Regions from separate parts of the Homo sapiens genome. Here region 1 is linked to region 2. Evidence: fine-mapped expression QTL. A gene starts in region 2. The other region holds a variant in brackets. All regions are shown on one strand. Distances are from middle to middle.

Region 1 (5,374 bases), 49 kb before region 2:
TGGAGCTACTCTGGGACTTTGTGCAGGAATCGCTCCGGCCTACTGGAGGATGGCAGGGCCCAGTGAACAGCCAGCACAAACTGCCAGACACATCAGAGGCCTTCATGGCTTCTAGCCTGGTGTGAGCCTCAGCTCCAAGGGAGCTGGCAGTGGGAGGAGTGGGGAAACCTAGCCAACCCACAGAGTCATGAGACATGCTACACTGGTGCCAAGTTTTGAGGTGGTTTGTTATACAAACATTCATGGAAACCAGACTTTTTACTGCATGAAAAGATGACATCCAAGATACTGTGACCCCTTTCTCACGCAGTCTTTCTGACACACCTCAGGAAATGAGAACGCTTCAAACTACCCAGATCTGCACACAATGGCACATTTTATCAGCTCTCAGAATTGCAACTCTCAAGGAGGTGAGGAAGACCCACAGTCTGGGGTCACCTGTGGTCGTCTGGTTGAGGCCTCATCTGTCCTCAATAATTATGCAACCCTATTTGGGGGAACCCCAGCCCAGCTACACAAAGCATCTGCTCCAGGGTTTCAGAGGGAATACCACGTGACTGACCACTCAAAGAGAGGGTTCTAAAGGCTATCTCCTCACCTCACGATCCAATCATGGACGCGAAGAGATATGAGAATCCCAAAGTCCTCAAACCTCCCTCCAAGGGAGTCTTGGATGGGGAGGGGAGCCAGAGAACAGTAACCTAGAGACTAAACAGACTATTTTTTAATAACATGATGACTTCATCTAAAAAACCGGCACTAACCTTTTAGTAATTTCTCACCGCCACCCAGCTTCAGACTGTGCGGGGAAGCTGAGCCTGCCTCTGACTTACAAAGCATGGCTCTTTCATTTCCTCAAAGGCAAGCACCTGTGGCCACCTGTGCTACAGAATGGAACTCACTGGAACAATTTGCTCCTTTTCACTCTTGGAGTCTACTTTCCCATTGAGGGTTTTTTTTTTTTTTTTTTTTTTGACACAGAGTCTCGCTCTGTTGCCCAGGCTAGAGTGCAGTGGCTCAATCTTGGCTCACTAAAAGCTCCGCCTCCCAGGTTCACGCCATTCTCCTGCCTCAGCTTCCCAAGTAGCTGGGACTACAGGGGTGCGCCACCATGCCCGGCTAATTTTTTGTATTTTTAGTACAGACAGGGTTTCACCATGTTAGCCAGGATGGTCTCGATCTCCTGACCTCGTGATCTGCCCACCTCAGCCTCCCAAAGTGCTGGGATTACAGGCGTGAGCCACTGTGCCTGGCCCCATTAAGGTATTTTTGATCTCTCTCCCCTTTCAATTTCTGACATTAAACAAAATTTTTTTTTTCTTAAAGTACAGTACAAAAGGATAATCATTAAAAACATCCACCAGGCGGATCATGAGGTCAGGAGATTGAGACCATCCTGGCTAACATGGCGAAACCCCGTCTCTACTAAAAATACAAAAAATTAGCCAGGCGTGGTGGCACGCGCCTATGGTCCCAGCTACTTGGGAGCCTGAGGCAGGTGAATCACTTGAACCCGGGGAGGCGGAGGTTGCAGTGAGCCGAGATCGTGCCATTGCACTCTAGCCTGTGTGACAGAGCGAAAGTCCATCTCAAAACAACAATAACAACAACAACAAAAAACATCCACCAGGCTCAGTGGCTCACGCCTGTAATCCCACCACTTTAGGAGGCAAGGCAGGAGGATGGCTTGAAGCCAGGAGTTTGAGACCAGCCTGGGCAAAAAAACAAGACCCTGTCTCTATAAAAAATATAAAATATTAGTCAGGCATGGTGGTGTGCACCTGTACTCCCAGCTACTCAGGAAGCTGAGGCGTGGGGGAGTGGCGGGGGAGTGGATTACTTGAGCCCAGAAGTTTGAGGCTACTATCATGGTGCCACTGCACTCCAGTATGGGTAATGGAGACCCTGTCTCAAAAAGAAGAGCTCCAAAAGATGCAGTGATCCTCATTTAGAGTAAGCCTCTCTCCTCCCACCAGCCTCAGTGACCTCGTATGCCTGCTGTCCTGGCCTCAGTCCCTCCTGCTCTTGGGGATCCCAACTCCTCCTGCACCACATCCTCAAACTTGCTCTCCTTCTACCTGCTGAGGGGTCCATGCTCCCACAGCACATAACAAAATCAACAAACACCTCTTGGTTTGATCTTGGAACCTCTCCATTTACTTCATAATCCAAATTTTTGGTTTTTTCTTGCTGCGTCTGGCTCCTGGCCCTGAAGCCTGCATCCATCATCCTGCTGAGTGACCGTGAGCCCCTGTTGGGCTCCTTCACAGCACAGCATAATGCACTTCCTTTCAGAAGCTCAGTGGGTTCTATTAGAATTCCAAATGTTTTTATTTATTTATTTTTCTTTTTAAGGGCCGGGAGAGAGAGGAGAGAGAAAGGAAAGAGGGAAGGGGGTGGAGAGGGGGAGAGAGAGAGAGAAAAGAGAGCTAGAATTTTAACTGTTGTTTAAACTTATTTAATCATCCTGCTAGGATAACAGGGCAAGACTGCTTTTCCTCTTGCAGCCGCCACTCAGCACAAGCTT[C/T]GAACACAGCTGTCATGAGCTGCAAACTACCACACAAGTGAGGGTGTTGCTTCATGTTTCCTGTTGTTTCAAAGAGGTTATAATTTTATCACCCTAAATAAACCATAAATGCAAACTGCTTAAGAGTGAAATACTGTGCTAAAGTTGGAGAAGGCGCACTCAGTCAGTTTAGCTGATTTAACACAAAAAGCCACAAGTGCTGAGATTGCTCTTAACATGTGAAGTTAAAGATTATCAAGTGGCGGTGGGGGAGGGTGGTAGGAGAGTGAGGGTTGAAAAATTGCCTATTGGGTACAATGTTCATTATCTGGGTGATGGGTACACTAGAAACCCAATTCCCACCATTACTTAACGTACCCATGTTACAAACCCACACATGTACCTCCTGAATCTTCAAAAACAAAAAATCATCAAGGGGTAACTTCAAAGCTCATCGCTGAAACCCCATTTACGTAGACCATGCAGTTTATGTATACAGTCAGCCCTCCGTATCTGTGGGTTCTGCATCCATGGATTCAACCAAACGTGGATTGAAAATAGTTGGTAAAAAACTGCCTGTACTGAACATGTACACTTTTTTTTCCTGTTATTATTCTCTAAACCAGGGATCCCCAACCCCCGGGCCACAGACCAGTACTGGTCAGTGGCCTGTTTGGAACTGGGTTGCATAGCAGGAAGTGAGCGGCAAGCGAGCATTACCACCTGAGCTCCACCTCCTGTCACATCAGCGGGGGCATTAGATTCTCATGGGAGAGCCAACTGGATTGTGAGCTGTGCATGCAAGGGATCTAAGTTCACTCCTTATGAGAATCTAACTAATGCCTGATGTGAGGTGGAACAGTTTCACTGCAAAGCCATCCTCCCCTGATCCCTCAGTCCATGGAAAAATTGTCTTCCACGAAACTGGTCCCTGGTGCCAAAGGAGTTGGGGACTGCTGCCACAAACAATGAAGTATAACAACTATCTGCATAGCATTTACCTTGTATTAGGTATTACAAGTAATCTAGAGATGATTTAAAGTATATGGGAGAACGTGCATAGTTTATATTTCATTTTATACAAGGGACATGAGCTTCCTTGGATTTTAGTATCCTCAGTGTGCCCTGGAACCAATCCCCCACAGATACCAAGGAATGACTACATATATTTCTGATAAGTCATTCATAAATCAAACATAAAAGATTAAAATACTCAAAATGCATTCCAACCACCCAACTGGCATTGCCTAAAGTGCCTTGTGAATTATTCCCAGAAATAAATAACTTGAGTGGCACCAAAGTGTTCTGCAGATTTTTCAACACAGCTGTTCCTTGTCACGTGAACATATCAGATCTCCTTATGAGCACATCAGACTTCCATCAGACTTCCACATACCCACTGTGGGAAGCCCCTTCACCGCACATGCAGCGGCTAGGAGGGTAACTTGGAGCAGGGCTCCTGCCATGGGAGGAACCCCAGGCCAGGACACAACCATGGGTACCATAGTCCTATTTTTCAAAGTGAGGCCAAGGCAGTTTCAACACTGCAGAGTGAAAAGGCCCATAACACTGCATAATGGGACAGTTTGTGTATCTGTGCTTTTCCTCCACTTAGTTTCACCCATAGAAAACACCAGTACTGTGTTTCATAAGCACGAAAGGAGGAAGCAGAACGGTGTCGACAGATGAGCAGCGATGCCAGACTCAGCAGCAGGCCAACAGCCTGCACCTGTAATCTGAACGCATAGAGACCCTCCCTCCTGCAGCGACCACATGTACACACTTTAGGAGCTGACACGTGAAAAGTGCAAGAAGAAAAAACCATCAAGAAACAGGCATCAGGCCGGGCATGATGGCTCACGCCCATAATCCCAGAACTTTGGGAGGCCGAGGCGGTCGGATCACCTGAGGTCGGGAGTTCAAGACCAGCCTGGCCAACATGGTGAAACCCCGTCTTTATTAAAAATACAAAAATTAGCCAGGCGTGATGGGGCACGTCTGTAATCCCAGCTAGCTGGGAGACTGAGGTACGAGAATTGCTTGAACCCAGGAAGCGGAAGTTGCAGAGAGCCGAGACTGCGCCACTGCACTCCAGACTTGGTGACAGAGCGAGACTCGTCTCAAAAAAAAAAAAAAAAAAGAAAAGAAAAAGAAAAAGGAAAGAAAAGAAATGGGCATCAGTTAACAAGAACAGGGAGGCAGGCTTTAGGCAGGTGGGCAGGGCAGAGGAAAGCACAGAGCAGAGGAAGAGCCCTGAGGTACAAAGCAAGCTGTGAGAAAGCCAAATGGCCAGGAGGGCCTAGAAGAAAAGCAGGGCCAATGATGGCACCCTCAAGGCAGCTGCTGAAGGCACTGTTGGGAGAAGAACAACAGGCCCCAGCTCCTTCCACTCCCTCAGGACCTAATCCTGGCTCTTCCTCAGCAGGGCCAGAACCTGGCAGATGCATCACAAGGAACTCAACACCATGCTACAGCTGTAGGTGGGCACCTGTCCCTACAAAACAAAATGAGATCAACACCCAGACTCATGGGGGCTTAGCAGTTCTCAATTACCTGTTTGTCTTAAACATTAACAAGGATAACTTAGCTCTGACTGTGTCTTAAAGACATAAATAAAGATGTCATCATTTGATGTGACCTCAAATATGCTGAGACCCTAATGAGGAGGGTTTCATAGGCTGACAGCCCAGGCCACCGCTGAAGGCTCTTAAGAGGGGTCAGTGAGGAGCACAAATGCCAGACTAGAACAGAGACGAAAGTCTAGGACAGGACCAAAGGTAGGAACAAAAGGGAGATGGCAGATGGGCCCACCACAGAGACAGACCCAGGTCAGCTAGTTAACCGGATTCTGTTCTGGGGAGTGGACTT
Region 2 (5,374 bases):
ACATCATAAAACTACACTAGGGTTTCTCAACCTGGGTACTACTGACATTTTGAGCTGGATAATTCTTCGCTGTGGGGGGGAGGTGTGCTCTGTGAATTATACAATGTTTAGCAGTATTCCTTGCATTCATTTTCTAGATAACAGCAGTACCACCCGCCACCCCCCACCCAGTTGCAACAATCCAAAATATCTCCAGACATTGCCAAATTTCCCCTTGGTAGGACAGGGCAGAATCAACCCTCGTTGAGAACCAATGGTCTAATGATCATCAACGTTTGCTAGACTATTAGAAGAAAGGCTGATGGTAAACTTCATGGATAATCAGGATGACAACCCCCAAATTGAGAGATGAATTACAATATTACTAAGAGACAAACCCGCCTTGTGCCTCAGTAGAAGTACATAGTGCCAGCCACGAAGCGTTATTGCAAACAAAACAAAACAAAAAAACCCAAACCTCAACATTACACCTAAACCTAATGAAGCTTCTAGCCAGGGGCAAATCCAAGCTTTGTGGGGCCTTAAACTATACAAATTTCACAGTCCTCTTTAAGAAAAAGACACAAAATTATAAATGCGAAATTAGGTACGGGGGTCTATGCAAGGGAGGGCCTGAAGATTAAGCTTCATTAGTTTCACTGTAAACCTCCCCTGACTCTAGAATTAACTGTGATTACAGGACATACCAGGGACAAAAAACGTTAAATGACACCTGAAGATACAATCAGCAAAACCCAGAAAGTGGAAAATTCTGTTGGTCAAATGACCCAGTTTCTTCAATAAGTAAATGCCATGAATAACAAACAACAAAAAGAGAGGGGAAATTTATATATATAATATATATATAATATGTATAATATATATATATGTTGTTATATGGTTTGTTTTTTTTTTTTTGGACACGAGTCTCTCTCTCACCCAGGCTGGAGTGCAGTGGCATGATCTCGGCTCACTGCAACCTCTGCCTCCTGGGTTCAAGCGATTCTTCTGCCTCAGTCTCCCAAGTAGCTGGGACTACAGGTGAGCACCACCACACCCAGCTAATTTTTGTATTTTTGGTAGAGGTAGGGTTTCACCATATTGGCCAGGCTGGTCTCGAACTCCTGACCTCGTGATCTGCCCACCTTGGCCTCCCAAAGTGCTGGGATTACAGGTGTGAGCCACTGCGCCCGGCCCTGTTTTTGTTTGTTTTGAGATAGAATCTCACTCTGTTGCCTAGGCTGGAGTACAGTGGCATCATCTCAGCCCACTGCAACCTCCACCTCCCTGATTCTAGCAATTCTCCTGCCTCAGCCTCCCAAGTAGCTGAGATTACAGGTGTGCACCACCACACCTGGCTAATTTTTGTATTTTTAGTAGAAACAGGGTTTCACCATGTTGGCCAGGCTGGTCTCAAACTCCTGACCTCAAGTGATCCTTCCACCTCAGCCTCCCAAAGTGCTGGGATTACAGGCATGAGCCACTGTGCCCAGCCAAAATTGTTATATATTAAGAGACATATATTTGTATGAAATGCAGTAAGTAAACCTTGTTTGGACCCTAAATATCTAATGTACAAAATTTTTTAAGGCAATGGGGAAAATTAAACACATACTAGGTATTAAGTGATGTTAAATAATTTTTAAAATTTTGGTGGGTGTGATAATAGTATAAAGTCCTTATCTGTTAGAGACACACACTGACGTATTTATAGGTGAAATGACATGATGTCCAGGATTTGCTTTAATATACAGCACTTCAAAAAAAAATGCAGAAAGGGATACATGAAATGAGAAAGGCAGCAAACTGTTGTTGAAGTTGGATGATGAGTACAGCCCTCCGTTATTATCCAAGGGGGATAATTCCTGGACCCCTACGGATACCAAAATCCAGGTATGCTCAAGTTCTTTATGAAAGTTCATTGTAATTATTCTATTATATAAAAGTTTCGAAATTCTGTTGATAAAATGTATTTTTAGTAGAGACGGGGGTTTCACCTTGTTGGCCCAACTGGTCTCGAATTTCTAACCTCAGATGATCCACCAGCCTTGGCCGCCCAAAGTGTTAGCATTACAGGCGTGAGCCACCGCGCCCGCCTGGCCTTGATAAAAACAGTTTTAACCTTCCGTTGCTTCGATTCCATGCCCACTAAGTAACATTCCAGTTTGTTTTTCACTTTCAAAAGGATGTGCTGTAACTAGGGGATGTAAACAAGCTCCATGACCCTACTTATTCCAAGTTTTCGTTCCACTCTCCCACCTTTTTTTTAAGACAAGGTATCACCCTCGGTCGCCCAGGCTGGAGCGCGATCACTGCTTAATGCATCCTCGACCTCCTGGGTTCAAGCGATTCTCCTGCCTCAGCCTCCCAAGTAGCTGGGACTACATGCGCACACCACCACACCGGTTAATTTTTTGTAGAGACGGGGGTTTCACCATGTTGCCCAGGCTGGTCCCGAACTCCTGGGCTCAAGGGATCCGCCCGCCTCAGCCTCCCAGAGTGCTGGGATTACAGGTGCCAGCCACCGCGCCCGGCCCCAGCTTCTTAAAAGAATGATCCGAAACTATGGCAGCACTGGGCTTTTGGTCCCCACCCAAGAAATGCCCGCTCGCAGAGGCTCGCCGCGGCAGGCTCTCCCGACGTGACAGAGTGTGGGTCTGGATTCAGCCTCGGTTCTTACGAGTCAGATAGGTGGACACGCAAAGCAAAACATCACAGGGCTTTTTGTATTTAGCACAGAAAACACTTGTGAGCCCGAGCTGAGAACCCAAAAGGCACGCTTCAGGCCATCGTAGCCACCAAGCCTGGTCAGATTCCGTCCACCGTCTCCTTGGTGCTCCGAGACCCAAATCGCTGACTGGGGCCGAGGGCGGGCGTGACTGCGCAGGCGTGCCTCCCCTGCGAGATGCCGGAGGTAAGCTGCGGGGTAAGGGGCGAGAAATTAAGGGCGAACGTCATTGCGCATGCGCCCTCTACTCTCGTTGCGGGGGTAGGCGGGCGCCGGGCTGTGTGAGGGGGCGGGGCGCGGCAGTGTTCGGTACGGATGGAGTTGCAGGAGACGGCGAGTACATATCACTGCGCAGGCGTCCTCTTCCCCTAACTCTCAGGGTCGCTAGGGTGGCGCGCAGGCGCAGAGCGATGCGCAAATGTGCGCAGGCGCTTAGGGGCTGAGGCGCGATGGCAGGTGTCGGGGCTGGGCCTCTGCGGGCGATGGGGCGGCAGGCCCTGCTGCTTCTCGCGCTGTGCGCCACAGGCGCCCAGGGGCTCTACTTCCACATCGGCGAGACCGAGAAGCGCTGTTTCATCGAGGAAATCCCCGACGAGACCATGGTCATCGGTCAGGCGGGCTGAGGGTGGGGAGGCCCTTTGTACCCAGCTCAGCCCTCGGCGGCGCTCCCTCCTCCCGAGCCCAGCCGGGTCGCTGGCTCCCCCAGTACCTAGCCTGAGGGTGCCCCGAGGACGCCAGGCCCCCTGCCTAGAGCTCCGGGCCGCACGTCGGAGGGGGCCGGGCGGAGAGGCGGCCCACTAGGGCCGGTCGTGACTATGTGTCTGCCCCGCAGGCAACTATCGTACCCAGATGTGGGATAAGCAGAAGGAGGTCTTCCTGCCCTCGACCCCTGGCCTGGGCATGCACGTGGAAGTGAAGGACCCCGACGGCAAGGTAAGGCTGGCGTTGGCCCACGCAGCCGTTCTTCAGTGGAGCTCCCGTGGGGTGTAAAGCACTGCCTGGAGGAGGCCTCAAGGGACAGGAACTTGCACTTGGAGAGCCTGCGGTATAAAGGTGGGGCCTTCACTCACATATGTTGCAGGTGGTGCTGTCCCGGCAGTACGGCTCGGAGGGCCGCTTCACGTTCACCTCCCACACGCCCGGTGACCATCAAATCTGTCTGCACTCCAATTCTACCAGGATGGCTCTCTTCGCTGGTGGCAAACTGGTAAGAGGATTTTCTCTTTGGCTTCAGCTTAGAATCTCTCACTTGTTTCCAAATTTTGATTTATCAAGATTGTGAAACTTTGTAGCACAGTCAGAATTGGGGAGACAGATGTTGCCTTCTGCTCCACAGCCAGGGACAATAGTGGGTTCCATACCCTGGAACAGACAACTGGAGGCCCCACCACTCATACATTCCATGTTTCCTTGTAGCGGGTGCATCTCGACATCCAGGTTGGGGAGCATGCCAACAACTACCCTGAGATTGCTGCAAAAGATAAGCTGACGGAGCTACAGCTCCGCGCCCGCCAGTTGCTTGATCAGGTGGAACAGATTCAGAAGGAGCAGGATTACCAAAGGGCAAGTGCATATCTCCTTGTAATTTGAGAGGGCAGTTGACCTTTATACCCACTATACCTACTCAAGTTTCTGCTTGGGAGATCAGCTCTGCAGAGAATGGAATGAGAAGTATTGGTTTAGATAGGTTGTTTGTTTGTTGTTTTTGAGACGGAGTTTCACTCTTGTTGCCCATGCTGGAGTGCAATGCCATGATCTTGGCTCACTGCAACCTCCGCCTCCCCAGGTTCAAGCGATTCTCCTGCCTCAGCCTCCTGAGTAGCTGGGATTACAGGCATGCGCCACCATGCCTGGCTAATTTTGTACTTTTAGTAGAGACGGGGGTTTCTCCACGTTGGTCAGGCTGGTCTCGAACTCCCGACATCAAGTGATCCGCCCGCCTCAGCCTCCCAAAGTGCTGGGATTACAGGTGTGAGCTACCGCGCCCTGCCTGTTTTGCTTTTTTATCAAAACATTTTATTGTGGTAAAATATAACACCAAATGTGTCATTTTAACTGTCTATATAGTTCAGTGGTATTAAGTGCCTTCATAATGTTGTGCTACCAACACCATCATCCAGCTCCAGAACTTTTTCATCTTCTCAAACTAAAAATCTGTACTTATTTTGTTTTGTTTTTGAGATGGAGTCTCGCTCTGTTGCCCAGGCTGGAGCGCAGTGGCGCCATCTCGGCTCACTGCACCCTCCGCCTCCCAGGTTCAAGCGATTCTCCTGCCTCAGCCTCCCAAGTAGCTGGGATTACAGGCAAGTGCCACCATGCGTGGCTCATTTTTGTGTTTTTAGTAGAGACTGGGTTTCACCATGTTGGCCAGGCTGGTCTTGAACTCCTGGCCTCAGGCAATCCACTGCCGCAGCCTCCCAAAGTGTTGGGATTACAGGCGTGAGCCACTGCACCCAGCAAATCTGTACTTATTATAAACAATAACTTCCCGTTTCCTTTTGTCCTGACACCCACCATTCTACTTTCTGTCTCTATGATCCTGACTACCCTATCTCATATAAGTGGAATCATTCAGTATTTGTCCTTTTGTGACTGGCTTATTTCACTGAGTATAATGTTCTCACAGTTCATCCATGTTATAGCATGTGTCAGAATTTCTTAAGGCTA

Evidence for each region.
Region 1: its variant is fine-mapped to the expression of TMED4 in whole blood (TOPMed, PIP 0.98).

Annotation. Positions count from the first base shown.
Region 1 is chr7:44,628,853-44,634,226 of GRCh38, reverse strand. All of the region lies in intron 2 of OGDH (oxoglutarate dehydrogenase), which reads right to left. Among named protein-coding and RNA genes, the nearest start is that of OGDH, 25 kb to the right of the region's middle. RefSeq lists enhancers at 47-96, 4,370-4,419. The variant C/T (reference allele first, on the strand shown) is at 2,528.
Region 2 is chr7:44,579,989-44,585,362 of GRCh38, reverse strand. It overlaps TMED4 (transmembrane p24 trafficking protein 4), which reads left to right and starts at 3,132. Exons shown (of 5, transcript NM_182547.4): 1 at 3,132-3,316; 2 at 3,540-3,640; 3 at 3,789-3,914; 4 at 4,124-4,270. The coding sequence starts at 3,157. RefSeq lists an enhancer at 2,649-2,758 and silencers at 2,849-3,008, 3,409-3,508.